4 separate regions of the Homo sapiens genome follow, and regions 1, 3 and 4 are each reported to be linked to region 2. Evidence: microRNA targets listed by miRTarBase, many of them from high-throughput screens and not tested one by one. Region 2 holds a microRNA gene; each other region holds the end of a gene's coding sequence. Distances are between the middles of the regions.

Region 1 (7,123 bases), not on the chromosome of region 2:
CCTCCTCCTCTCCTTCCCTTACCCCTGCTTGAAGCTATTATCTCTTAGTGAATTGGGTGTATGCCTAAAATCACAGTCAAAACATCTAGAAAAACTAGGATTATAACTGTAGTCTCTTAACTCACAGAGTATGCTTTTTTCAGTATATCAGTTGCTCAATAAAATTTGTCCCATGAATTTTTAAAAAATCATAATAAAACAGTCTAATATAGTGGATAAATCTATCCACTTTGGAATCAGGTTCAAATCTCAGTTCTGCAACTTACTAGCTTTGCAACTTGGGTCAAGCAGTGTATCTCTCCAAGTCTCAGTTCCCCCATACATAATAATATCTACTTCAAAAGATTAGATGAGAAGAGTAAAGTATGTGACGTGTTTGTGGGTGTGTGTATATAGATATAGCATGTATGGGATATAGTAATCTAATATTTCTATTATTCCTATAACAATATATTTTTTATTTTTTTGTTTTGTAGATGCGGCCATCATGGTCTCTTGCTGTGCTATTTCTTGGTCAACTGTTGATTATCAAGTAGCTTTAAGAAAATCCTTGCCTGACAAAAAGCTTCTTAATGGATTATGTCCCAAAATCACATATCTCTTTTACAAGTTGTTTACATTATTATCGTGGATGCTGAGTGTTGTACTTCTACTATTCTTAAATGTTAAGATTGCTTTATTTCTGTTGTTATTTCTTTGGTTGTTAGGTATAATATGGGCATTTAAAAACAACACCCAGTTTTGTACTTGTATAAGTATGGAATTCTTATATAGGATTGTTGTTGGATTCATTCTTATCTTTACATTTTTTAATATTAAGGGACAGAATACCAAGTGTCCAATGTCTTGTTATTATATTGTTAGGGTACTGGGCACTTTGGGGATATTGACTGTATTCTGGGTTTGCCCCCTCACTATTTTTAATCCAGACTATTTTATACCTATCAGTATAACTATAGTTCTTACTCTTCTTCTTGGAATTCTTTTTCTTATTGTTTATTATGGGAGTTTTCACCCAAACAGAAGTGCAGAAACAAAATGTGATGAAATTGATGGAAAACCAGTTCTAAGAGAATGTAGAATGAGATATTTCCTAATGGAATAAGCTATTCATTTATGATATATATTTTCTTATATTTTGTTTCATTGGTTAGTAAAGAAAATGTGTGTTATGTGGGTGTGTTGTCTCTTATTTTTGCCACCTTTAATTTGAAATTAGTTCAGTGAAATAGGAGATACATAGTAGTATTTTATTTTTAAAATTAATTTCTCATTTGGTTTTGAAGATCTTGAGTACTCAGATATCTTTCTACTGCCTGGTAGAGCTGCCATCTTGAGCCTGAAATATAAGAAATGGTCTGGTTTTCATAATGAGAAGGCTGGAATTGAGCTTCCCTCCCATTTTCCTTGTTCCTGAACTAATACTACTGTACCTGTTATGGAGGACTGCAAAGGGAAGAGAAAAGCAGAACACTGTATTATTTTTTCCTTTATTGTCTTCAGTGCATATATTTGCAGTTGGGGACAGGTTGAGTAGAGGAAAAGGGAAAGAAGGGAAAGCAGAAAACAAATTTTTAGCATCTGCTGTGCTTTCATCCATGAAATCTCCAATTCAGTAAGTGCAAAAGAGAATTGGTGTGCATCTGAGAGGTCTGACATTTCATTATTTACTTATTTCCTAGCTTTTCTGAATTAATGCACTCTTAACATATAATTATATTAATCCTATTTGTGCTAGAATAGTTGTATCTAAATCATATTTTAAAATTATTTTTATTTTTAAAAAATTATGGTAAAAACATATAAAATTTACCATCTTAATCACTTTGAGTGTACAGTTCATCAGTGTTAACTGTATTCACCTTGTGCAACAGATCTCAAGGACTTTTTCACCTTGTAAAACTAAGATTCTCTATTTATTGAACAAATCCCCATTTCCTCCTTCCCCAAGTCTCTCTCAACTGAAATTATAATTTTTTGTTTCTATGAGTTTGAATACTTTAGATACCTTGTTGCCATGGTTTGAATGTGCCCCCCAGATTTCATGTGTGTGAAACTTAATCTCCAAATTTGTATGTTGATGGCATTTGGAAGTGGTGGGGACTTTGTTTATTTATTTATTTTTAATTTTTTAATTTTATATTATTATTATTATTATTATACTTTAAGGTTTAGGGTACATGTGCACAATGTGCAGGTTAGTTACATATGTATACATGTGCCATGCTGGTGTGCTGCACCCATTAACTCGTCATTTATCATTAGGTATATCTCCTAAAGCTATCCCTCCCCCCTCCCCCCACCCCACAACAGTCCCCAGAGTGTGATGATCCCCTTCCTGTGTCCATGTGTTCTCATTGTTCAGTTCCCACCTATGAGTGAGAATATGCAGTGTTTGGTTTTTTGTTCTTGCGATAGTTTACTGAGAATGATGATTTCCAGCTTCATCCATGTCCCTACAAAGGACATGAACTCATCATTTTTTATGGCTGCATAGTATTCCATGGTGTATATGTGCCACATTTTCTTAATCCAGTCTATTGTTGTTGGACATTTGGGTTGGTTCCAAGTCTTTGCTATTGTGAATAGTGCTGCAATAAACATACGTGTGCATGTGTCTTTATAGCAGCATGATTTATAATCCTTTGGGTATATACCCAGTAATGGGATGGCTGGGTCAAATGGTATTTCTAGTTCTAGATCCCTGAGGAATCACCACACTGACTTCCACAATAGTTGAACGAGTTTACAGTCCCAGCAACAGTGTAAAAGTGTTCCTATTTCTCCACATCCTCTCCAGCACCTGTTGTTTCCTGACTTTTTAATGATTGCCATTCTAACTGGTGTGAGATGGTATCTCATTGTGGTTTTGATTTGCATTTCTCTGATGGCCAGTGATGGTGAGCATTTTTTCATGTGTTTTTTGGTTGCATAAATAAATGTCTTCTTTTGAGAAGTGTCTGTTCATGTCCTTCGCCCACTTTTTGATGGGGTTGTTTGTTTTTTCTTGTAAATTTGTTTGAGTTCATTGTAGATTCTGGATATTAGCCCTTTGTCAGATGAGTAGGTTGCGAACATTTTCTCCCATTTTGTAGGTTGCCTGTTCACTCTGATGGTAATTTCTTTTGCTGTGCAGAAGCTCTTTATTTTAATTAGATCCCATTTGTCAATTTTGGCTTTTGTTGCCATTGCTTTTGGTGTTTTAGACATGAATTCTGTGCCCATGCCTATGTCCTGAATGGTAATGCCTAGGTTTTCTTCTAGGGATTTTATGGTTTTAGGTCTAACATTTAAGTCTTTAATCCATCTTGAATTAACTTTTGTATAAGGTGTAAGGAAGGGATCCAGTTTCAGCTTTCTACATATGGCTAGCCAGTTTTCCCAGCACCATTTATTAAATAGGGAATCCTTTCCCCATTGCTTGTTTTTGTCAGGTTTGTCAAAGATCAGATAGTTGTAGATATGCGGCGTTATTTCTGAGGGCTCTGTTCTGTTCCATTGATCTATATCTCTGTTTTGGTACCAGTACCATGCTGTTTTGGTTACTGTAGCCTTGTAGTATAGTTTGAAGTCAGGTAGCGTGATGCCTCCAGCTTTGTTCTTTTGGCTTAGGATTGACTCGGCGATGCGGGCTCTTTTTTGGTTCCATATGAACTTTAAAGTAGTTTTTTCCAATTCTGTGAAGAAAGTCATTGGTAGCTTTATGGGGATGACATTGAATCTATAAATTACCTTCGGCAGTATGGCCATTTTCATGATATTGATTCTTCCTATCCATGAGCATGGAATGTTCTTCCATTTGTTTGTATCCTCTTTTATTTCACTGAGCAGTGGTTTGTAGTTCTCCTTGAAGAGGTCCTTCACATCCCTTGTAAGTTGGATTCCTAAGTATTTTATTCTCTTTGAAGCAATTGTGAATGGGAGTTCACTCATGATTTGGCTCTCTGTTTGTCTGTTATTGGTGTATAAGAATGCTTGTGATTTTTGTACATTGATTTTGTATCCTGAGACTTTGCCGAAGTTGCTTATCAGCTTAAGGAGATTTTGGGCTGAGACAATGGGGTTTTCTAGATATACAATCATGTCATCTGCAAACAGGGACAATTTGACTTCCTCTTTTCCTGATTGAATACCCTTTATTTCCTTCTCCTGCCTAATTGCCCTGGCCAGAACTTCCAACACTATGTTGAATAGGAGTGGTGAGAGAGGGCATCCCTGTCTTGTGCCAGTTTTCAAAGGGAATGCTTCCAGTTTTTGCCCATTCAGTATGATATTGGCTGTGGGTTTGTCATAGATAGCTCTTATTATTTTGAGATACATCCCATCAATACCTAATTTATTGAGAGTTTTTAGCATGAAGCGTTGTTGAATTTTGTCAAAGGCCTTTTCTGCATCTATTGAGATAATCATGTGGTTTTTGTCTTTGGTTCTGTTTATATGCTGGATTACATTTCTTGATTTGCATATATTGAACCAGCCTTGCATCCCAGGGATGAAGCCCACTTGATCATGGTGGATAAGCTTTTTGATGTGCTGCTGGATTCGGTTTGCCAGTATTTTATTGAGGATTTTTGCATCAATGTTCATCAAGGATATTGGTCTAAAATTCTCTTTTTTGGTTGTGTCTCTGCCAGGCTTTGGTATCCGGATGATGCTGGCCTCATAAAATGAGTTAGGGAGGATTCCCTCTTTTTCTATTGAGTGGAATAGTTTCAGAAGGAATGGTACCAGTTCCTCCTTGTACCTCTGGTAGAATTCGGCTGTGAATCCATCTGGTCCTGGACTCTTTTTGGTTGGTAAGCTATTGATTATTGCCACAATTTCAGATCCTGTTATTGGTCTATTCAGAGATTCAACTTCTTCCTGGGTTAGTGTTGGGAGGGTGTATGTGTCAAGGAATTTATCCATTTCTTCTAGATTTTCTAGTTTATTTGTGTAGAGGTGTTTATAGTATTCTCTGATGGTAGTTTGTATTTCTGTGGGATCGGTGGTGATGTCCCCTTTATCATTTTTTATTGTGTCTATTTGATTCTTTTCTCTTTTCTTCTTTATTAGTCTTGCTAGCGGTCTATCAATTTTGTTGATCCTTTCAAAAAATCAGCTCCTGGATTCATTAATTTTTTGAAGGGTTTTTTGTGTCTCTATTTCCTTCAGTTCTGGTCTGATTTTAGTTATTTCTTGCCTTCTGCTACCTTTTGAATGTGTTTGCCCTTGCTTTTCTAGTTCTTTTAATTGTGATGTTAGGGTGTCAATTTTTGATCTTTCCTGCTTTCTCTTGTGGGCATTTAGTGCTATAAATTTCCCTCTATACACTGCCTTGAATGTGTCCCAGAGATTCTGGTATGTTGTGTCTTTGTTCTCGTTGGTTTCAAAGAACATCTTTATTTCTGCCTTCATTTCGTTATGTACCCAGTAGTCATTCAGGAGCAGGTTGTTCAGTTTCCGTGTAGTTGAGTGGTTTTGAGTGAGTTTCTTAATCCTGAGTTCTAGTTTGATTGCACTGTGGTCTGAGAGACAGTTTGTTATAATTTCTGGTGTTTTACATTTGCTGAGGAGAGCTTTACTTCCAAGTATGTGGTCAATTTTGGAATAGGTGTGGTGTGGTACTGAAAGAAATGTATATTCTGTTGATTTGGGGTGGAGAGTTCTGTAGATGTCTATTAGGTCCGCTTGGTGCAGAGCTGAGTTCAATTCCTGGGTATCCTTGTTAACTTTCTGTCTTGTTGATCTGTCTAATGTTGACAATGAGGTGTTAGTCTCCCATTATTATTGTGTGGGAATCTAAGTCTGTTTGTAGGTCACTCAGGACTTGCTTTATGAATCTGGGTGCTCCTGTATTGGGTGTATATATATTTAGGATAGTGAGCTCTTCTTGTTGAATTGATCCCTTTACCATTAAGTAATGGCCTTCTTTGTCTCTTTTGATGTTTGTTGGTTTAAAGTCTCTTTTATCAGAGACTATGATTGCAATCCCTGCCTTTTTTGTTTTCCATTTGCTTGGTACATCTTCCTCCATCCTTTTATTTTGAGCCTATGTGTGTCTCTGCACATGAGATGGGTTTCCTGAATACAGCACACTGATGGGTCTTGACTCTTTATCCAATTTGCCAGTCTGTGTCTTTTAACTGGAGCATTTAGTCCATTTACATTTAAAGTTAATATTGTTATGTGCGAATTTGATCCTGTCATTATGATGTTAGCTGGTTATTTTGCTCATTAGTTGATGCAGTTTCTTCCTAGCCTCGATGGTCTTTACAATTTGGCATGATTTTGCAGTGGCTGGTACCGGTTGTTCCTTTCCATGTTTAGTGCTTCCTTCAGGAGCTCTTTTAGGGCAAGCTTGGTGGTGACAAAATCTCTCAGCATTTGCTTGTCTGTAAAGTATTTTATTTCTCCTTCACTTATTAAGCTTAGTTTGTCTGGATATGAAATTCTGGGTTGAAAATTCTTTTCTTTCAGAATGTTGAATATTGGCCCCCACTCTCTTCTGGCTTGTAGAGTTTCTGCCGAGAGATCCGCCGTTGGTCTGATGGGCTTCCCTTTGTGGGTAACCCAACCTTTCTCTCTGGCTGCCCTTAACATTTTTTCCTTCATTTCAACTTTGGTGAATCTGACAATTATGTGTCTTGGAGTTGCTCTTCTTGAGGAGTATCTTTGTGGCGTTCTCTGTATTTCCTGTATGTGAATGTTGGCCTGCCTTGGTAGACTGGGGAAGTTCTCCTGGATAATATCCTGCAGAGTGTTTTCCAACTTGGTTCCATTCTGCCCGTCACTTTCAGGTACAGCAATCAGATGTAGATTTGGTCTTTTCACATAGTCCCATATTTCTTGGAGGCTTTGTTCGTTTCTTTTTATTCTTTTTTCTCTAAACTTCCCTTCTCGCTTCATTTCATTCATTTCATCTTCCATCACTGATACCCTTTCTTCCAGTTGATCGCATTGGCTCCTGAGTCTTCTGCATTCTTCACGTAGTTCTCGAGCCTTGGTTTTCAGCTCCATCAGCTCCTTTAAGCACTTCTCTGTATTGGTTATTCTAGTTATACATTTGTCTAAATTTTTTTCAAAGTTTTTAACTTCTTTGCCTTTGGTTTGAATTTCCTCCTGTAGCTCGGAGTAGTTTGAT
Region 2 (7,123 bases):
CCTGGAGTTAGCATCCTATCCCTGGAGTTAAGGGCTCAGTCCCTCCCACAAGGCTGCCCCATATCAGATGCTAATCCCAAGTCCCAGGCCTCCTGTACTTCTGACTGACTGGCTAAATATCAAGGGTTCTCATAACCCCTTTCTTAGGTTCAATAATTTGCCAGAACAACTCACAGAACTCAAAAAAGACTGTACTTATTATAACCAGTTTATTGTCAAGAATACAACTCAAGAACAGCCAAATGGAAAAGATGCTTAGGGCAAGGTGTGGAGGAAGGGCATGGATCTTCCCATGTCCTCTCTGGGTGCACAGCCTCCCAGCACCTCCGTAAGCTTTCTGAACCCTGGTTGTTTAGGGGCTTTTATGGAAGTTCCATTACATAGACATGATGAACTAAATCACTGGCCATTGTTGATTAGTTCCAATTCCAGCCCTTTCTCCCCTCCATGGAGGTTGTAGGGTGAGGCTAAAAGTTCCAACTCCCTAATGGTGCGTTGGTCTTTCTGGCAACCCGTTCCCCTGAAGCTATCTAGGGGCCCCCCAACCATCAGTCATCACATTTACTTGCAAAAGGCACTTATTACTCCCAAAATTCCAAGGGCTTTAGGAGCTGTGTCAGGAACTGGGGACAAAGACCAAATTTTTTTTAATGATCACAGGACTTTAAAAGGAAAGACATAGTGTTAGATGCTATGGGGAGGGATGAAGTTGAAGACTTATTTTCTTCCCTTGAGGTGAATGGGAGTGATGGATGGGTCTCTGTGTAAGACATGTGGTCATAGAATTTAATAGCCAAAAGAAATTTGGTAATCATTAAATCTAATGTATATTCTGTGACGGGTTCCTAGGCAACTGCAAAACATGAAATTCCATGGTTAAATAAGTTTGCTAAAAGTTGCATACCATATGAAGTTTTATACTGCTTAGTAGCCCATCGGAAGGTCTGAAAAGTTTTAGAGTAAAGATTAAACACATTTTTCTCAGCTCTCCCTACACTTGTCTCCAGAATCCCTTTTATCATGACACAAGTATTTTCATTTATTCAACAAATATTTATTGAACAACTGCTGCTTGGCACTGTACTACGAAAAGTTGGTGTTCTAGAGGACACAGTTTGAGAAATGATGATCTTGTCCAACTTCAGCGATTTTCAGGTGAGCAAATTAAGTCTATGAATAATCACATTTTAGTCAAAGGAGGTAGTTAAAGAGAGAGGCTGAAAGAGGGGGTGCCATTTCCATAGGGAAATCAGTAGGAAAAATCTACTGCAAGATAACGGCAATTAAGAAGCGTAATATGGGCTGGGCGCAGTGGCTCACGCCTGTAATCCCAACACTTTGGGAGGCCGAGGCGGGTAGATCACGAGGTCCGGAGATCAAGACCATCTTGGCCAACATGGTGAAACCCTGTCTCTACTAAAAATACAAAAATTACCTGGGCGTAGTGGCACACGCACTTGTAATTTCAGCTTCTCGAGAGGCTGAGGCAGGAGAATCTCTTGAACCTGGGAGGCAGAGATTGCAGTGAGCCAAGATCACGCCGCTGCACTCCAGCCTAGCAACAGAGTGAGACTCCGTCAAAAAAAAGAAAGAAAGAAAAAGAAAAAAGAAACATGATAAGGAGTTGTAGAAATGGTTTCAGAGGCAGATTCATTTTTTCCTGGGAGTGGCATATAAAGATAAAGGACTAGATAAGATGAAAGTGCTTGCATCTTAGTGGTGAGGAGTTGGTCCACGTGGTAGACAGTCAATTTTATGAAGTCAGAGAGGGCGGACAGGTGGAAATTAGTCAGATAAATGCACATACGCACTCTCTCTCTCAAACGACCCCCAGAGCTGGCAAGAGGCTGGAGATCAGATTCACCTGGTACTTTTTTTTAAATTATTTTGAGAAGGAGACTCGCTCTGTCACCCAGGCTGGAGTGCAGTGACACAATCTCGGTTCACCGCAGCCTCTGCTTCCTGGGTTCAAGCGATTCTCCTGCCTCAGCCTCCTGAGTAGCTGGGACTCTATAGGTGCGCACCACCACACCCGGCTAATTTTTGTATTGTTATTAGAGAAAGTTTCACCATGTTAGCTAGGCTGGTTTCGAACTCCTGACCTCAAGTGATCCATGCGCCTCGGCCCCCGAAAATGCTGAGATTACCACCTGATGCTTTTTAGCATTTTGCTGGATGTACTGAGTGATGCAGACATGAGCAACGGAGGTTTCTCCCGGGACTCCGTGGAGGAGGTGATGCAGCCGCAGCTCCAGGATCAGCAAACACTGGTGTCCTAAGCATAGTGGGGTTATTTCAGATGTCACAAAACCAAAATCTCTGTGGCCCAGTGGAGTGTAACAAAAGATACACAAACCTCTTCCATGCAGAGAGATACATAGCTCTCCGGTATAGCTAGGGAGAAAGAAGGAAAGATTTCTCAGATGGTGAAGGCAGGCCAATCGAAGAGAAAAGGCCAGAAATAAAACTCCACCACGATGAGAAGCAACCTCTGTGAGGAGTTACTGGGGGAAGAGTCCCCTGTGGAATGAGCACTGATGTCTCCATTCATTGTGCAGGTCCCTCTCACACTGCTTTCATTACTTGAACACTATCTGGTGTCATTAAGATATCAATTTTATTTAGGTATATCTGCATTGGCAGTTTAATTATGTCTGGGTAAGGCCCGATATTTATTCATGGGTGATCTTGGTAGTTGTCAGACACCAGCCTGAAGATAAAGGCGTCCATGCCTGAGGAATGCTAATGCTCCCCAGCCTGTCATTTGACAAGCGCACATGCCAGTTACTACCAAACTGATTATTTCAATCATTAACAACACATGCATCAGCCTCCTTCACCCGAGATTGCCACGTGCATTCATCTTTTCATAAACAGTTATCTGACAAGGGTGCTGAGAATTGATGTTCTGGGGGGAATTGCCCAACTTGCCTTAGCTACGGATGCAGCAAGCTGAACGCCCCGCTTAGCATCGTCATTTCATTAATCAGATTAGCACAACGCCCAATTGAGTGAGCACCATGTTCCTAAACAATCTCCAATCAGGGTTCCTTTCTGTTGTCCATGCTGGTGGCTGCACTTTTTTTTTTTTCCTGGAGGGTTCAGCTTTGCAGATCCTCTTAGAAAACTTGGATCTTTGCTTATCCCACCACCCATCCCATTTATAATAATTACTCTTGTTCCAAGGAGCAGGGTGCGGGGAGAGGCTCTGGGTTTGTGGAGGCGCCATCTGCTCCTTATTGCTCACCTGAGTCAGAGCCTCCTGACATCACTTCTCTGCAGCAATGAGAGCCAGATATCCACACAAAGAGGCTGGGGCTGTGCCAGACGGCGCAGGGCCTGAAAAGTGATGAATGAAAGAAATGTGAAACAGTAAAACTGCTCCCAGGCAGCGAGCCCTTCCTTCAAAGGGTGACTCACAGAAAAGGCAGTTTTGCCTTAGTTAGGAAGGTCGTCCCAGACCCCTACAGCTGAAGGACTAGCATTTGTTTCTCTACACTCACAGCTTGTGCAGATCGCATCTCACCCATCAGGGAAAAGAGAACACTCTGTTCAGTTTCACTAAGGCTTTTTGTTGCTCTTCTTCTTATGATGTAAGGCAAACTTCCAGGGTTTGGGTTTTTAATGGTTTTATATGATTACCTTTTCATGAGAAGCACAGTTATATTTATATTTTTAAAGCAAACCCAAAGTAAGAAAAAATGTATATATTTTCATCATATGAATGGAAAGCATTATATATTTTTTCTTTTCTTGGAATATTTTCATTTGATGACACCAATGGCATGATGATGATGATAATGTTTTCTATTTATTTGATGCTTTACTAATATATTCTTTTCAATTTTCACAAAAACTGTACTTTCTTTTTAAAAAGATTTTTGGAAACTGAGATGAAGAGACTTTGGGCAACTTGCCCAAGATAATGAGCTACTTAGTGGTAACCCTTGATGAGAGGGTTTTAAAATCCTACTTTTACCACTTAAAAGTCATCATAGAGTCCTGGTAGTCCAACATTCTTTGTGATGCTTCGGAATCCAGATCGATGGTTATTTATGAGATGGGATCTTACCCACTTTTGTTATGTAGCTCATTCTCATTCTTCTTTTGAAAAGCTTTAACAGTTAAAAATTCCTTTTTTATCATTGAGACAAATTCCTTATTTTTTAAAACATTTCCAACCAGTTCTAGATTTCCTTCTAGATTCACAGAGAACAAATCTGATTCTGCATGTATTAGGTTGGTGCAAAAGTAATCGCGGTTTTTGTCATTGAAAGTAATAGCAAAAACTGCAATTACTTTTGCACCAACCTAAAAGTAGTCACTGTCTTCAGATATTTAAAAACAGCCATAATGTCTTCTGGAAACTTCTCTTCTTCAGACTGATTCCAAATGTTGAAGTTGTGGCACTGTATTAGTCTGCTTGGGCTATGTCAGAGAAAAAAAAATATTTTTTCTCTACTTCCACACATCTCTCGATATAACACTTCTGACACTACATTCTCCAGCACACATCATCTGGGTGTCTTATTCAATTCAGTTCCGACACCATCAACCTGTAGACAGCATCAGATATCATAGGTTAAGGGCTCAGTCTCACAAGACTGCCCCCCACTTTAAATGCTTGTTGCGATTAGTATACCTCTGATTGATTATCTGGCTATAAATTGGGGTTTTCCATGAACGCTTCATTAGATTTGTTTAATTTGCTAGAGTGGCTCACAGAACTCGGGGAAACACTTATGTTGACCCACTTATTACAAAGGATATTACAAAGGATACAGAGGAGCAGCCAGATAGAAGAGATGCATAGGGCGAGGTATGTAGGAAGGGGTTTGGAGCTCCCAGATCCCTGGTTGCACCAACCTCCAGGAACTGCTGTGTGTGCAGCTCTCTGGAAGCTGTCAGAACCCAGTCTTGGGTTCTTGTAGAGGTCTCATCACATAGGCATGATTGATTAAACCACTGGCCATTGGTGATGAACTCAATCTTCAGCTCCTCTTTCCACCCCAGAGGTGTGTGTGTGGTGGTAGTGGGGGAGCTGAAAGTTTCAACCCTCTAATTACAACATTCCCCTGGCAACCATCCCCCATCCTGAGGCTATCCAGGAGCCCCCAGCCACCAGTCATCTCATTAACATTCACAAAGAAATTTATTGCTTTAGATTCCAAGGGTTTTGGGAATGATGAGCCAGGAAACAGGAAGACCAAATATCAAAATATGGTAGCCTGTGATATTTCGAAATATCACAGGCTACCATAACAAAGTGCCACAGGCTGGGGGACCTAAACAACAGTTTATTGTCTCACAATTCTGGAGGCTGGAAGTCTGAGATTGAGGATGGGTAGGGTTGTTCTCTCCCGCGACCTCTCTCCTTGGCTTGCACATGGCCACCTTCTCTCTGTGTCTTCACACAACCTTTCCTCTGTGCAGACATACTCCTGGTATCTCTTCCTCTTCCTTTAAGAACACCAATTCTGTTGGATCAGGGATCTACTCTTCCAACCTCACTTAACCATTTTTTTTTTTTTTTTTTGGAAACAGAGTCTCGCTCTGTTGCCCAGGCTGGAGGGCAGTGGCGCAATCTCTGCTCACTGCAACCTCCACCTCTCCCGAGTTCAAGTGATTCTCATGCCTCAGCCTCCCAAGTAGCTGGGACTGCAGGTGCACGCCACCATGCCCAGCTATTTTTGTATTTTTTATAGGGATGCAGTTTTGCCATGCTGGCCAGACTGGTCTCAGACTCCTAACCTCAAGTGATCCACCTGCCTTGGCCTCCTAAACTGCTGGGATTACAGGCATGAACCACTGTGCCCGACCCCTCATTTAACTTTAATAACCTCCTTTAATGCCCTTTAATCTTCAAATACAGTCACATTGAGAGTTGAGGCTTCAACTTACCAATTTTGAGGGGATATAATTCCGTCCATTCCAGGTATCAATGAAGTCAAGGCATCCATTCCTTCAACATGCTTTACTACATGTACAGAAACCACAGCAAGTCAAGATTGTTCACAGTTGAAAGAGGTTTCTGGAGGTGTGTGAACCATCTGAACTTCATCCTCTTTCTTCAAGTAGCCTTCAAGATTTGTGCCCACTGAACGAATGCTATGGAAACTGCCAACAGATGACCATCTGGTCACGATGTTCAAAGGCTCAACCTAAACAACATTGAAAATTACCAAAACTAAGGCAAAGGGTATGATTCTACTAAAGAAAGAGACTCCTTAAGGAGCAAGAGTCTCTAGGAACTGACTCTTCAGCAGTACTGAATGTAAAATTGGAATAACCACCCTCTCAAATCTCAGAGAAACTGGACTTAGGGCTCTTTTTTTATTAGAATGTGTTTGGGAAGGTGGACAGGGTGATTGTATCAACTGGCCCTTCCATTCCCAATGTGTGTACCAAGAGCGAGTGAGACAGTGATGAATTACCCAGGATGAGGTTAGAATAATTTAATAAAAAGAGGTGGAAATGGGGTCTTTAATTCCTAACCTTTTGAGCTGTGGCTAAAATCCATTAATAGAACATGGATTAAGAGTCCAAAGTAAGATTACTCAGCATCACCCGCCAGTGAATCACTCTGGCACTTGGGTCAGAATTAATATCTGAGAATTCTTTGAAACTTTATGGCTGGAATTTTTCTTTCCCCCTGGCTTGGCTTCTTTTGTAGTCTTAGCCTCTTTAGCAGAGGAGATAGGAAATCTTTGGCATCCATTCAAAAACTCATTCAAACCACAGAGTAGAACTTTAAAGGAGGCCTTTGGGGATATGTGGGGTCAGTTGGAATAGTTTATATCATAGCTTTCAGTTTAAAACAATTTTTTACAGCATCAGTAGGGAGAATTATATCACAATACATAAATAGATTTAGCAGGATTTACAAATCCACATGTGTTCCCTTAAGCAGTAGTTTTCAAATATTTGATGACCTTAGAACTCCTAGTTCAAATGAAATTTTACACTGAAGTGAAAATGAACACTGATAAAAGGGGAGTTTCTCTGCTTAAATAAGGATGTGAGGTCCCAGAGATCCCTTCTGCCTTTCCCTTTTGCTCTTTTGGGTAGCCCCTAAGGGGAATGAATGCCAAGATCTTCCAGGAAGATAGATTGAATGCTTTTT
Region 3 (7,123 bases), 1.4 Mb from region 2:
GGGACTGTGGGGATTGTAGGTACATCCTAACCCCGGAACTCTCTTAACATGCTGGTTCACTAAGCAAGCAGTGGGCCTCTCTGTCATAAACAAACATCTCAAATTTATTGAGTGTTTTTTGTTAATGTTTTTACACAAAGATTTGGAAAGAGAAAATTTGCAGTTATAATTTTTCTACTAATACTAGCTAAATTCTCATGGAAAATTTTGGTCTTAACATGTTATAAAAATTACCCCCAAAGAATTCTGACTTTAAGAAGCCATTTTCCACTGCATAGTCTATTTATATGGGATGCAGCCATAAGAAAAAAATTAGTGAAAATTTGTGTTTATTCTGCCTTTATAAAATTCATGCAAATTTACGTCATATAGCCTATTCCCATTTCTTTGAAAGTTCTCATTCATCCCATGGAACTTGGGTGTTTTAAGCAGTCTACTGGGTATGGCATTGGTGGGGCAGGGAGAAAGTGTTGTGATCTAATAATGTGGGAATATTTTAAGAAAAGATCCATTTGTTTGTCACATTTAACTACTAGCTCTTCAAGGATGTTGTGACAAACTTATATCACAGTCCACCAATGACTGTAAAAATATCTAGTCAACATACTTAGTCTGTAAAAGAAAACTGTTGCTAGAGATGGAGTTTTAAAAGGTGGGTTAGTGAAGCAGATACTGGGACCCTGGCTCTGGAGAGTACAGGGAAGAAGCTCCTGGGGCAAATTTCTCTTGGGCCTCTTTTGGTCAAAAGAATTACAGCCTTTTTGTTAAAAGGTCAAAAGAAGAGGTCAAAAGGATTGCGACCTTTTTGTAAAAAGGTCCTCCTGTTGTATATAGGAGAAATGGAGGTTGAGATTTATATTGGTGTCCCAAGAGGAATAGTGACTGGCATTTGCGTCATTCTTCTTAGCTCTTAGATGGTGTGGTGGAGGCTCCAGCTATGTTTTGTGCTGAGTGACAACTTGGCTGTCTTCCTCAACAAACACTCCCTGGTATACAGATGAGTTTCCAGACCTCACTGCCAAGGTGGCACCTTCAGATCATTACCACGTATCCTCTCTCTAGGCATGCCCATGCCCATTAGCATATCTGCATGGAATAAAGGCTGTACTCGCCTCTCTGAACTTGTAGTGTTGCGGTATTTCATAGCTATGTGTGGTTGGGAGCCTGGAGTTCTATGTTCTATAGAAATTGGAAAATGTTCAGTTTGGGCTGTCATACAAACTTTTGACTTTTTTGTTTTCAATTTTCTTGCAGAAACATCCCTTTATTTTGATGTATGAAGAACGTGCCGTTGAGGTCGCATGCTATGTTTGTAAAATCCTGGATCAAATGCCAGCTACTCCCAGCTCTCCCATGTATGTCGATTGATATCGCTGCTACATCAGACTCTAGAAAAAAGGGCTGAGAGGAAGCAAGACGTAAAGAATTTTCATCCCGTATCACAGTGTTTTTATTGCTCGCCCAGACACCATGTGCAATAAGATTGGTGTTCGTTTCCATCATGTCTGTATACTCCTGTCACCTAGAACGTGCATCCTTGTAATACCTGATTGATCACACAGTGTTAGTGCTGGTCAGAGAGACCTCATCCTGCTCTTTTGTGATGAACATATTCATGAAATGTGGAAGTCAGTACGATCAAGTTGTTGACTGTGATTAGATCACATCTTAAATTCATTTCTAGACTCAAAACCTGGAGATGCAGCTACTGGAATGGTGTTTTGTCAGACTTCCAAATCCTGGAAGGACACAGTGATGAATGTACTATGTCTGAACATAGAAACTCGGGCTTGAGTGAGAAGAGCTTGCACAGCCAACGAGACACATTGCCTTCTGGAGCTGGGAGACAAAGGAGGAATTTACTTTCTTCACCAAGTGCAATAGATTACTGATGTGATATTCTGTTGCTTTACAGTTACAGTTGATGTTTGGGGATCGATGTGCTCAGCCAAATTTCCTGTTTGAAATATCATGTTAAATTAGAATGAATTTATCTTTACCAAAAACCATGTTGCGTTCAAAGAGGTGAACATTAAAATATAGAGACAGGACAGAATGTGTTCTTTTCTCCTTTACCAGTCCTATTTTTCAATGGGAAGACTCAGGAGTCTGCCACTTGTCAAAGAAGGTGCTGATCCTAAGAATTTTTCATTCTCAGAATTCGGTGTGCTGCCAACTTGATGTTCCACCTGCCACAAACCACCAGGACTGAAAGAAGAAAACAGTACAGAAGGCAAAGTTTACAGATGTTTTTAATTCTAGTATTTTATCTGGAACAACTTGTAGCAGCTATATATTTCCCCTTGGTCCCAAGCCTGATACTTTAGCCATCATAACTCACTAACAGGGAGAAGTAGCTAGTAGCAATGTGCCTTGATTGATTAGATAAAGATTTCTAGTAGGCAGCAAAAGACCAAATCTCAGTTGTTTGCTTCTTGCCATCACTGGTCCAGGTCTTCAGTTTCCGAATCTCTTTCCCTTCCCCTGTGGTCTATTGTCGCTATGTGACTTGCGCTTAATCCAATATTTTGCCTTTTTTCTATATCAAAAAACCTTTACAGTTAGCAGGGATGTTCCTTACCAAGGATTTTTAGCCCCAAATCTCTCATATTCGCTAGTGTTTAAAAGGCTAAGAATAGTGGGGCCCAGCCGATGTGGTAGGTGATAAAGAGGCATCTTTTCTAGAGACACATTGGACCAGATGAGGATCCGAAACGGCAGCCTTTACGTTCATCACCTGCTAGAACCTCTCGTAGTCCATCACCATTTCTTGGCATTGGAATTCTACTGGAAAAAAATACAAAAAGCAAAACAAAACCCTCAGCACTGTTACAAGAGGCCATTTAAGTATCTTGTGCTTCTTCACTTACCCATTAGCCAGGTTCTCATTAGGTTTTGCTTGGGCCTCCCTGGCACTGAACCTTAGGCTTTGTATGACAGTGAAGCAGCACTGTGAGTGGTTCAAGCACACTGGAATATAAAACAGTCATGGCCTGAGATGCAGGTGATGCCATTACAGAACCAAATCGTGGCACGTATTGCTGTGTCTCCTCTCAGAGTGACAGTCATAAATACTGTCAAACAATAAAGGGAGAATGGTGCTGTTTAAAGTCACATCCCTGTAAATTGCAGAATTCAAAAGTGATTATCTCTTTGATCTACTTGCCTCATTTCCCTATCTTCTCCCCCACGGTATCCTAAACTTTAGACTTCCCACTGTTCTGAAAGGAGACATTGCTCTATGTCTGCCTTCGACCACAGCAAGCCATCATCCTCCATTGCTCCCGGGGACTCAAGAGGAATCTGTTTCTCTGCTGTCAACTTCCCATCTGGCTCAGCATAGGGTCACTTTGCCATTATGCAAATGGAGATAAAAGCAATTCTGACTGTCCAGGAGCTAATCTGACCGTTCTATTGTGTGGATGACCACATAAGAAGGCAATTTTAGTGTATTAATCATAGATTATTATAAACTATAAACTTAAGGGCAAGGAGTTTATTACAATGTATCTTTATTAAAACAAAAGGGTGTATAGTGTTCACAAACTGTGAAAATAGTGTAAGAACTGTACATTGTGAGCTCTGGTTATTTTTCTCTTGTACCATAGAAAAATGTATAAAAATTATCAAAAAGCTAATGTGCAGGGATATTGCCTTATTTGTCTGTAAAAAATGGAGCTCAGTAACATAACTGCTTCTTGGAGCTTTGGAATATTTTATCCTGTATTCTTGTTTGAATTCCTCCTCTATTTAAGATATATACATGGAATCGAAGTGTTTATGTAATAGTTCTATCCTTTTGCCTGCAGGTCAGTTGTAATAAATCTAGGATGTGATGATGACTTTGTAATTTGATTTTCTGAAATCAGACCCTGAGAGGGGAAAATCTTAAAGTAAATTACATTAAATTATCTGTGCATTTCACACCAGGGAAAATGACCTCCTTTTGGAAGTGTTTTATGGCTGCTTTCTTTTTCTTCTTCCTTCCCATGGCTACCCTTTTTGCTTATCCTTCTTGAAACCACAGATGTATCTGTTAAGCATAGCTTTGCTTGAACAGGTGTCACAGTCTCTTGAGTTTCTTTGTTTGTTGTCCTGACCTGCCCCAGCATTCTTAATGCTAAAGGAAGTGGGTACAGTTCTTCAACCTGTGTCATGGTGGAGAGGTACAACTTATAAGTCTATCTGGGCCCCGTGTATGGTTTCCAGCCATGCTCTCCGCTCTTGGTGCTTCAGCTGCCAGGTGAGCATTAGATGTCAGGTTAGATACTGGGTTGGAATCACTCACTGTTACCTTAGAAGGGTAGGGAGGATTGTGGGTAGAAGACGTCTGGAGGTCAGACATGGGAGGTTTATGGATGAGAGGACAATGGAAGTGAACAAAAAGCCATGGGAGCCTGAAAACTGTTGGAGAAAAGCACTTTGCGGCTCCAGCACTGAATGTATCTGCTGTACTCTACCTCCTACCAGTGATTGATCAGATAACAGATTCATTGATATTATGGTGATTCAGCACCTTGCCCTTGTGCCTGCTCCTAACTGTACCTGAGATACTATTACACAGCCAGATGTGGTATCAAACATTCCCCTGAGAGGGGTGTGAAAGCAGGAATTCTGGCCTCTCCAGCTAACCTCAGCTGCTAAGGGAAAGGGTACCCATTGGGTTTCAATACTGGCATGAGAGATAGACTACACACTCCATGTTTCATAGGACACTGCCTTGTATTTGTTCATCTCATTTGATTCCAAATGCATCCCACTAAAATCAAGTGGCTGTATCCCCTTTTAGATACAAGAAAACCAAGGTCCGAAGGAGTGAAGTTCTGGCTCAAATAACAGTAGGGAGCAGAGCTGAGATTCAAATTCAAGGCCGTAACACGTACCCTAAGAAGTTACATTAATTTAAAAACACTGCTATTAAAGAAGTGTTGTGGAGTTGAGAAGTGGAAGAATGAATATAGTTGAGGATACTCTGTTCATAAACCTGACCAGGGCCTGCTTTGTTGTTTTGGAAATGAGTTGAAGGCAGAGGTTCTGGGGGCCACAGTGGGGCTTAACATACAAAGCGATCCATACAAAGGCAACTGTGTAATTACCTTAGAATTAACTAGAGGAACTCTAGGTTGTAATTCTTCAGTGCAAACACCTGAGAATTCAGTGTCATGGACTGAACGTCTCCATTAGCATGATAATGTGGCAATCACTGAGAATGAGTAAAGTGCCCTTTCATTTATTTTATTTATTTTTTATTTTTTGAGACAGTTTTGCTCTTGTTGCCCAGGCTGGAATGCAATGATGTGATCTTGGCTCTGCAACCTCTGCCTCCGGAGTTCAAGCAATTCTGCCTCAGCCTCCCGAGTAGCTGGGATTGCAGGTGCACACCACCACACCTAGGTAACTTTTTCTTTTCTTTTTTTTTTTTTTTTTTGAGATGGAGTCCCACTCTTGTCGCCCAGGCTGGAGAGCAATGGCGTAATCTCAGCACACTGCAACCTCTGCCTCCCAGGTTCAAGTGATTCTCCTGCCTCAGCCTCCCAAGTAGCTAGGATTACAGGCGCCTGCCACTACACCCAGCTAATTTTTTTTTTGTATTTTTAGTAGAGATGTGGTTTCGCCATGTTGGCCAGGCTCGTCTCGAACTCCTGACCTCAGGCGATTCACCTGCCTCGCCATCCCAAAGTGCTGGGATTACAAAGAGCCAGCATGCCCGACTTCCCTTTAATTGATTCGATCCAACTGTCTTAGCTGCAGGAGGATAGAGAAAGGACACATAAGGTCTTGAAAGTACCGTTGGGACACTGGTTACTTTTCTTGGCAGTGTGTAGAGATTATGTGTCTCCATCTCTTGTGCAGGGCTGTCTGCACCAGTCACATCCATTGTTCCTGGGCTTATTGCTTGGGATGTGAGGGACAGAGAATCTAAAGGCTTTGTCTTAAACGTACTGGCTTGGTTTTAAATACCTCATTAAGTGGTTGAGGGAAAATGTAATCTGCAGTAATAACTCTTAGGATGAACTGTAAGAACCACGTCATGGAAAATTGACACTGGACAACATCATAGAAGGAACACCTGTAGAATGGGAAACAGCTTGTCTTCTGGTAATTTAGTACAGACTGAAGTTATCTTTATATCTTGGTTCTTCCCATCTTTTCGATACGTGAATATCCAGAAATTCTCATCTCAAGCCTTGAAATCATAAAGATAGTGGTTCAGTATCTGCTTTTGATAACATTTTGTTTTGTTTTTCTGATATGCCAAAATGTATTTATACATCTTAAATGTAAAATGTAGTCCTGCTATTTAAAACTTGTTAACCCATATAGCATATAGTCACAATTCAGTAATTGTAATGCATGATGAATCAAATTTCTGTCTGCATTTGAAATTTCTATCTACATATGCATTCTGCTAAAGAACAGTATTAAGACTTCCAGTTTTTCCTAATTCTTATACAAATTTAATGTGAACACCACTCTTCAAGGAGATAGGAAGGGTATTCTGTTGCTCCAGTCCTACACATGCGTAACAGTACTAAATAATTAGGTAATTTGCCTAAGGTAATACATCAAGAGGGTATATAGAGCTCAGATCTCTTGATGGCTTATTAGGATTCTTTTTGTGTATGTGACAGGGTCTCACTCTTTTGCCCAGGCTGGAGCGCAGTGGCACGATCTTGGCTCACTGCAGCCTCTGCCTCCCAGGTTCAAGCAACTCTCCTGCCTCAGCCTCCTAAGTAGCTGGGATTACAGGCACCTACCACCACTCTTGGCTAATTTTTTGTATTTTTAGTAGAGATGGGGTTTCACCATGTTGGCCAGGCTGGTCTCAAACTCCTGGCCTCAACTAATCCACTCTCCTTGGCCTCCCAAAGTGCTGGGATTACAGGCGTGAGGCACCACACCTGGCTTGTTAGGATTTTTATGAAACTGTGCTTCCCGTTTGACGATGAATTACAAGGTTTAAAAGCAAAAGATTGATAGTTACATATGATTCCTGCCTGCGACACTTATTCTAACCCCTGGAGCCATTTTCCTTTGGAAAATTGCCTTTAGCACATGATTAGAAGCAACATTACTGATCATCTGCTCACTTTTAATCCTAAATGGTATTTCACAGTTTAAT
Region 4 (7,123 bases), not on the chromosome of region 2:
ACTAAAAATACAAAAATGAGCTGAGTGTGGTGGTAAGCGCCTGTAATCCCAGCTACTTGGGAGGCTGAGGCAGGAGAGTCGCTTGAATCCCGGAGGTGGAGGCTGCAGTGAGCCAAGATTGCACCACTGCACTCCAGCCTGGGTGACAGAGTGAGACTTCATCTCAGATTAAAAAAAAAACGGAAATGTTGACTGTGATTAGGGCAGGAATAAGGGATTGCCAGGGTTCTCAGCTCAGACTCATCCTCAGACTGCCAAAATCTACCACAACGTCTAACAAAATTTCTATATTTTCTTTAAATCATGAATTGAAGTTTCCTTTCAGCTATTTGCCCTGATCATCTCATTTGCATTCCATACCCTTACCATGTATGTATTCAATCCGACACTTTCTGTTGGTGTGGCTAATCCTTCTGGATTTATGGGTGTATGTGGAATCATATCAAATCCTCCGCTCTTACTAGAATGCTCTGAAAATGATAAATGGCTAATAATATTTTAAAACAACTTAAAATGTAAAGTTCACTTAGTAATTTAAATATACAGGTAGACACATTATAAGAAAACCATTATTGCTTTTCTAACCTAGATGACCAAAGGAAGACAATGACAGATGATTGTATATTTTGTTTAATACTTGCATTGTTTCTATAGCGCAATTATAGCAATCTTTAAATTTACTTTCATTACAAATATTTGTCAAGTTTTGTTTCAGAAACATTTTTCCTACTCTCTTGCATCATGCACCCAGACACACTACAAAAAACTCATTCATAACACAGTAAGGGCAAACATTATTCATGTAAACATCTTTCATTAATTTCCCATAATTTAAAAAAATCATAGAATTATAGATATTGAATAAGGCTCATAGTTTTAGTTCAAATTCCACAAGAGACCAAAGATGCTCGTTAACCGTGATGGGGTTAACTTTTGGTTGCAATAAATGCTGAAAGCATACCCCTGGCTTCTACTTCTTCAACATACCTCACAACCTAATAAATGTATTTCAGGATAAAGAGAGAACATAGAACACCCAGGAGGAAACTTTTGAAGAAGGGAGCTCAGAATCATGGACATAATTTTCCTATGTGATAAGCAGGTATTACGTAGTCCCTGTAGCTTCCCAATACATGAATCAAGGTTAATTATCATAAACCAAAATGTAACCAAGTAGATATGTTGATACATTGGCATGTGTGTTCGTATTGCTACTATACACAGTGAAAATTTATCCTAATATGTATCATTTCATTATATCCAGGACCAAAGTGGAAAAAAAACCCCACTCAAGTTGAATATCATCATAAAGGAGTTTTTGTTTGTTTGTTTTTTCAATAACATAAGAGTCAGGAGAGTTGGGAGGTATGTCCTAGGGATGTGATTGACTCTTGACATTTAACAACTTTGAACAACTGTGTGTAAAGTCACAGACAGAGGAAGCAAGGATTTTTGTTATCGGAGGACGTCTCTCTCTCTGGTTGGAAGTTTGGTGCTTGGGTGCATAGTCTTCCAGAGCTGAGACAGGAAATGTACTGTGCTGAGAAATGGGCCCCTTGCCAGATGCTCCCCTCTCCTTCCTCTCTGCGAGGCAGAAGTCAGAAGGTAGAGATTGCTGGCAAAACTGTGAAGTCCCACCCTGGGGTCTCAACCCCAACTCCACTGAGGGCAGCCTCCCTGACGTGTGTGACTAGGCAGTAAGGGTGGCGGTTGATGGCGGCCGGGAAACCGAGTTTCGAGGTTCACATGGCCAAGTCTGGCTTCTGATTCTGCTGCCCTGCAAAGAAATTGTGCTCCAGATAACTGCACCGGTGTCTCTAATGCCTCTGATTCACTCTCAGGCCCCTCAAAGGCCTGCAGTGATATCACTAAAAGGTGAACACACCTCCATTAGCACCTAACTTCCACCAGGAAGCGGCTGAGGCACTGGGGAAGCCTACGAGCTCTCTCCACGTCAGGTGCAACAACGCCGAGGAAGTTGCTGAGAGTCAGAGTTATTGTAGGCTTTTGATTTTTAAAAATCAAAATTGATCTGCATTACATCTCAATAGACTCAGATAATTCTCACCAAAATTTTTGTAATGTGTTTAAGTAGCACTGGAATAATTCAACTTCATTTAAATATATTCATTCTATCATGAAAATATTTCATACAAACATCTATTTACATACAAACACATTAAAATTTGTGAAAAGGGTTCCCACCCCTGTGGTTGTATGGCTTGAAATAGTTTCATTGCTTTGAATATGTACGCACACATTTGGCAAAAGAAAACTATTACAATTTAGTATTTTTAAAATTAAAAAAAGTGACAACGAGTTTCCAAATTCCTGAAGGGAAAGATAAAAGAAAAACAATAATAATCTATCAAGGTACCCCAAGTAGATGTAAATTTGATATACTTTGTGAACCTTTGATCTGTGGCAAATAAACATTACAACTGTCAGTCTTGCAACATAGTTTTGCTTGTTTTTCTAAAACAAAAGATATCTGGATTCTAAGTCACTACTCTTAAGACAGAAGCTTGAGGCAACTGTTTTAAAACAAAGCAAAACAGAAAATGATACCTCTACCTTCTTGGAAGATTTTAAATGCATGTTGCAGTGAGTGATTTAAATTTTTATATATTAAATGAAATTTACGAAAAGTGCCACATACTGTCTCCTGGAGAAGACAACCCTTTAATTCACTGTTCACAATTAATGCAATTTTAATAGTTATATTTAAATGTTAAAAATTGTTACATTTGGCCTCATTGGCCTTTCTGGGTGGGTCGTTGGTGATAAGGAAATAGTTTTTCGAGTGTGAAGAACCCCCATAGGGCAAATAGGTTTAACTACAGTCCTAGACAGGTTCAAAGAGCTCTTGGAAAACTAATTTCCTTCTTAGTGTCTCAGGTAGATCAAGGATGAAGCAAGTTAAAATAAGAATAGGTACTACAAGACTCAAGAACTCCTCACTGCTTTCTTTTTGATCCCATCATTCCTTTGTGTCGGAAATTCAGTCTTTCCAGTTGTTTTTGTTAGTCCATTCAAATGTCCATTTGGGGACATGCTCCTACAGGTTAGTTCCTATTCCTAACTCTAACACAAGATAATATTTCATCACAGAAAAGATGCTAAGGGAAGATCTGGTCATGCAGGAGTTGGACTGAGACAGCTCTGAGTGAATCTCCTTGAGATTACAGTGTCGCACACACACATAGGCTCCCGCTGTTTTTCAGGAGAGCATAAAGTTATTTCTTTATTCCCCACCACATGGAATCTTCCACGTCTGCTGTGATTCTGATGCGATGAAATGACCAGATGCAGCGGCTTCCTGACACATTTCCTTCCCCAGCAGATGTAAAGTAGAAAAATACATTCTGAGTATTCTTTTCCACTTGCGTTTAGGTTCAAACGGGAAACAAACCCTTCCGTCCTCAGCTGTTAATTCCTTATAGAACCTCCACTCCCTTGACTTCTTTCCCTACCTACAGAACTCAGTGAATCTCAAGCCTTACTCCGATTCCAACCTGCCACAGAGCCTTACATTTGGGAGTATGTGTGTGTGTGAGGGGAGGGGTGGGGAAGACAGAGCCAGAGACATAAGCAAACAGAGAGGCACACACAGAGGAAAAGCCAGATGAGCAGAGTCCCAAAGACATGCACAGAGCCAGAGAGACTCAAGAAAGGTCAGTGCAGGGGACTTGGAACAGGGAACAGGAGAGGGCAGCTGGGGCTGCTGTTACCCAGGATGCCCAGGCGTTCTCACATATGCAGAGAGAAGAGGAAAGAGAGCCGGCCAGAGAAAGAAGAGCTGGAAGACACAGAGAGTATGAAGAGAGTTGGGAGGAAGACATGGTGAGGCTCAGCGTGGATGCATTGCTTCCTCTGATTTGCGTGGAGGTCACAGACACACTGCTGAGTTTTAAGCTCAGAGTGTTACCATTCAATATCTCATCTGAAGAACTGATTAGCAGACTAATCACTACTTACAACTCTTCAATTCCTTCTATCCAATGTTGAAAAAAATTCCATTTGAATGGGATAATTAGAGTAGCCCCCACTTAGGACGTAAATTGTACCCCACTGCAGCCAGGACCAGAATGCTATCACTCTCAGGAATGAAATCATTCAGAGCATAGCTGCATCGGGGGCATGACCAGCACTATCCTCTCCCTGACCGTATTCCCTGACCTGGCTGCACAACCCACTTGATCGAGGTTAATGCAAGCCATCTTTCTCCTGAAGACAGTCACTCCCTTTGGGCACATTTAAATTAAAGCACCTATCAGAATGCAAGTCCAGAGGCCCTGGCCCATCCGTCACAGTGTATAGAACGGTCTCTTTCTACAGAGTAAGAGTGACCCTATCCTGGTGCCTTTAAATCTAAAAACTATTCAGTTCCTTTGGTGGGCAATCTTCCTGGAAGCACTGACAACTTCCTCTCATGGGTGAACCATTGGCTTAAGCTTTCAAGCAGGGATCCAACTGGATCTCCCTGAAACCACTGCCACCTAGCTGCAAAGCATGCAACCGGGTGCTCTAGGAAGCCTGGTGTTGCAAAGAAGGGAAGGGCAACTCTGTCAATGTGCCCAAGGGCCACCTGAAATGAAAGTCATGAGCAGCCTGGGATTAAGCACTTTTGTTGTAGTCTTCATAAAGCAATGTGCAACTGACAAGAAATAGCAAACTTCCTTCTGCCTATGTCCTCACTCTTCTTCCACTGAAGCCTTCTCTCATCAGCTGGAGCTCACTATCTGCTACAGCTTGGAAGGCCTTCGCTTTCCAGACCAAACTGACTCAGGTGACAGGAATCACAGCTGACAGCTACAGATCAGCACAACAGCTGCTCTCCAGTCCTTCCAGCCGCTGCATCGAGGTGTCTAAAAGAGACAAAGCTATGGCATGTGGTGAGGGTGCTTATAAAAAACAAAACTCTCAGGATTCATTCAGAGCAATCCCAGTGATGTTACAGATCTAATTAGCTAAACTAAAAAAACAGGGGTTTTCTCCTTATTTCTGCAGTTGTGATTACACATGGCTGGCAAAATGGCTGAAATGCTATTGATAGTGTTGCTTTTAAACTATACAGGTGTTCAGTCTTAGTTTACAATGTTTTGAAGCAGGTAAGTGCTTTGAAATTACAATGATGAAGAGTTTTAGCATCAAGGTTTGATTTGTACCTAGTAATCAGTGTGTCTGCCTTAGTAGTACTGACTAAAAAAATTTTTTTTTGAATTCTGTTAGAATTCAAATTTGCTGTTTGACTTTTGAATTCAATGCACTGTGCCACAAGCCTGACCGCGCTATGTTATGTACATTTAATGTGTACTCAAGGAGGAAAAAATTACTAGCACTACTGAAAATATTGCAAAATTGCCATAGTTACCGCTTAGAGATACTAGTTTTCTTCTCTTCTTTCTTAAAGTATATATTACAACTCTTCCATAACTTAATGCAAACAAAGTAAATTCATTTCTTCTCACATCTTAAAGCAAAGATATCTTTGTTTACATGCGAGAATAATATTCTATAATAATACCCTGGCCCTATGAGCCAGTACTTTATATTAGGACATAATAATAAAATGATGATATAGAAAGAACCAGAGAGACCTACACACTGCTATTGATGCAAAAATCCATTTGGAAGTTTTCTCTTGTAAAGGGTATCTAAGAAAGAGAATAGGGCTGAGGGGTGAAATGACTTTAGAAGTGGGCTCCTATTTACTAAGAAAAAAACCAAAGCCATTCTATTGCAAGATACAGATCAAAGGTTAAAAGGCAAATTATACTACATTTAGAGAATAAAGATGTAGTAATTGTCAACCCTTAATACGGCACATATGCAAGTGTGCTAACACAATTTGCACTGGCCATAGGAAAAAAGCACTATGGAAAAACCACTGACTAAAAATGACTGAAAAACCCCGTTTCCCTGTTTCAGTCTAATCATTTGGCATCTCCGAATGTGGTACAGATTTAGACTTGAACCACCAAAGAACATCACGCTGTCTTATGTCAAATGCTCGACAATACCTCTCAGTAGGACGTTGTTGCAAGGCTAGCTAATTTTAAATCTGGTATGAGTAATACAGTCAAACCTAGTTAGTATGCGAGAAAGTCGTTGCTAACGCATGGTGAGAGGATGTGACGTCACAGCATGAGCAGTCCCTGGTTGTCCCATTGTCAGATAAACGTAGTGCATAGATCCAAGTTTCTATTCCAGGTCTCTGAACCCCAAAGCCAGGCCTTTCACTTTTGCTGGGTGGCCTGGAAGGCCTTCAGCTCCACCTGGTACCACTCAGGGGCTTCAGGCCCACTCTTCCCGGGGGGGCTGTGGTCATAGCCATAGGCAACGGTGAGCTCTTCATCGGCCTCCACTGCTCTCAGGGTGCGGATGCATTTGATGGGCCCAAAACGGGGGTGGACAAACCTAAACATCAAGATGCACACAGTCATTCCCGGGCCAGACCAGGAGGTTGGAAGCAAAGGCTAGGGAGGGGCTGATACAGGAATCACCCCCAGGCACTCTTCCCTGGGCACACCTGGTATGTGCCCAAAGTGTGGTCACCCAGCATCAGTTTCACCCGAGAGCTTATTAGACATGGAGCATCTCGGCCCCATCCCAGACCTGCTGGATTGCAATCTGCATTTTAGCGACACCCCCAGGCGATCCACTGGTGTATTAAAGTTTGAAAAGCACTGCTCTGTTTTTTAAAGCATATTTGGCACCTTGCATTTATAAACCAACAATCATGATCAACAACAAAAATCTGTCGTTAATGAGAAATCAGATCCAGTGCAGCCCGCCAGCATTTGAGCTTGTCTGGCCAGCAGCATCAGATTACGTGGCTGTATCTCAGGGAGAAGGCTTCACCAGAGTGCTTTTGGAGTTGTAAGAAAGAGCCCTGTGGATTTTCAAAGGCAAAAACTCTGTATTCCACCCTATACATAGAGAGGAAATATTATTTTCTAGCATGAAAGTAGATGAAGATTTCTTCCCAAGAGGGAAGTCTAGACCTCTCTGCCAACCTGTTTATTTAGTATTTCCCTGTGAAGCATCCTATGAAGAGAGCAGTATCTCCTTCCTACAACAAGTCCTCTTGGGACCAGAAACGAGGTTAACACTATGGCTA

Evidence for each region. The annotated mature microRNA hsa-miR-548h-5p reads AAAAGUAAUCGCGGUUUUUGUC and lies in region 2 at 4,248-4,269, shown strand. An mRNA with a match to its seed (bases 2 to 7 or 8) in the 3' UTR can be bound and repressed. Matches are read on the target gene's strand: a 7mer-m8 pairs with bases 2 to 8, a 7mer-A1 pairs with bases 2 to 7 and ends in A, and an 8mer does both.
Region 1: miRTarBase lists XKR9 as a target of hsa-miR-548h-5p. Seed matches in the 3' UTR shown: 7mer-A1 at 1,997-2,003 and 7mer-A1 at 2,161-2,167.
Region 3: miRTarBase lists MAP2K4 as a target of hsa-miR-548h-5p. Seed matches in the 3' UTR shown: 7mer-m8 at 1,860-1,866 and 7mer-A1 at 2,320-2,326.
Region 4: the mRNA of SETD7 is a reported target of hsa-miR-548h-5p. Seed matches in the 3' UTR shown: 7mer-m8 at 5,449-5,455, 7mer-A1 at 5,409-5,415 and 7mer-A1 at 3,347-3,353.

What each region holds. Positions count from the first base shown.
Region 1 is chr8:70,733,320-70,740,442 of GRCh38, forward strand. It overlaps XKR9 (XK related 9), which reads left to right. Exons shown (of 5, transcript NM_001011720.2): 5 at 477-2,623. The coding sequence ends at 1,105. Among named protein-coding and RNA genes, the nearest start is that of XKR9, 68 kb to the left of the region's middle.
Region 2 is chr17:13,540,743-13,547,865 of GRCh38, reverse strand. It overlaps MIR548H3 (microRNA 548h-3), which reads left to right and starts at 4,220; the gene lies at 4,220-4,337. The region is part of intron 1 of HS3ST3A1 (heparan sulfate-glucosamine 3-sulfotransferase 3A1); the gene reads left to right.
Region 3 is chr17:12,139,893-12,147,015 of GRCh38, forward strand. It overlaps MAP2K4 (mitogen-activated protein kinase kinase 4), which reads left to right. Exons shown (of 11, transcript NM_003010.4): 11 at 1,255-3,936. The coding sequence ends at 1,368. Among named protein-coding and RNA genes, the nearest start is that of MIR744, 62 kb to the left of the region's middle.
Region 4 is chr4:139,505,424-139,512,546 of GRCh38, forward strand. It overlaps SETD7 (SET domain containing 7, histone lysine methyltransferase), which reads right to left. Exons shown (of 8, transcript NM_030648.4): 8 at 615-6,420. The coding sequence ends at 6,240. Among named protein-coding and RNA genes, the nearest start is that of SETD7, 47 kb to the right of the region's middle.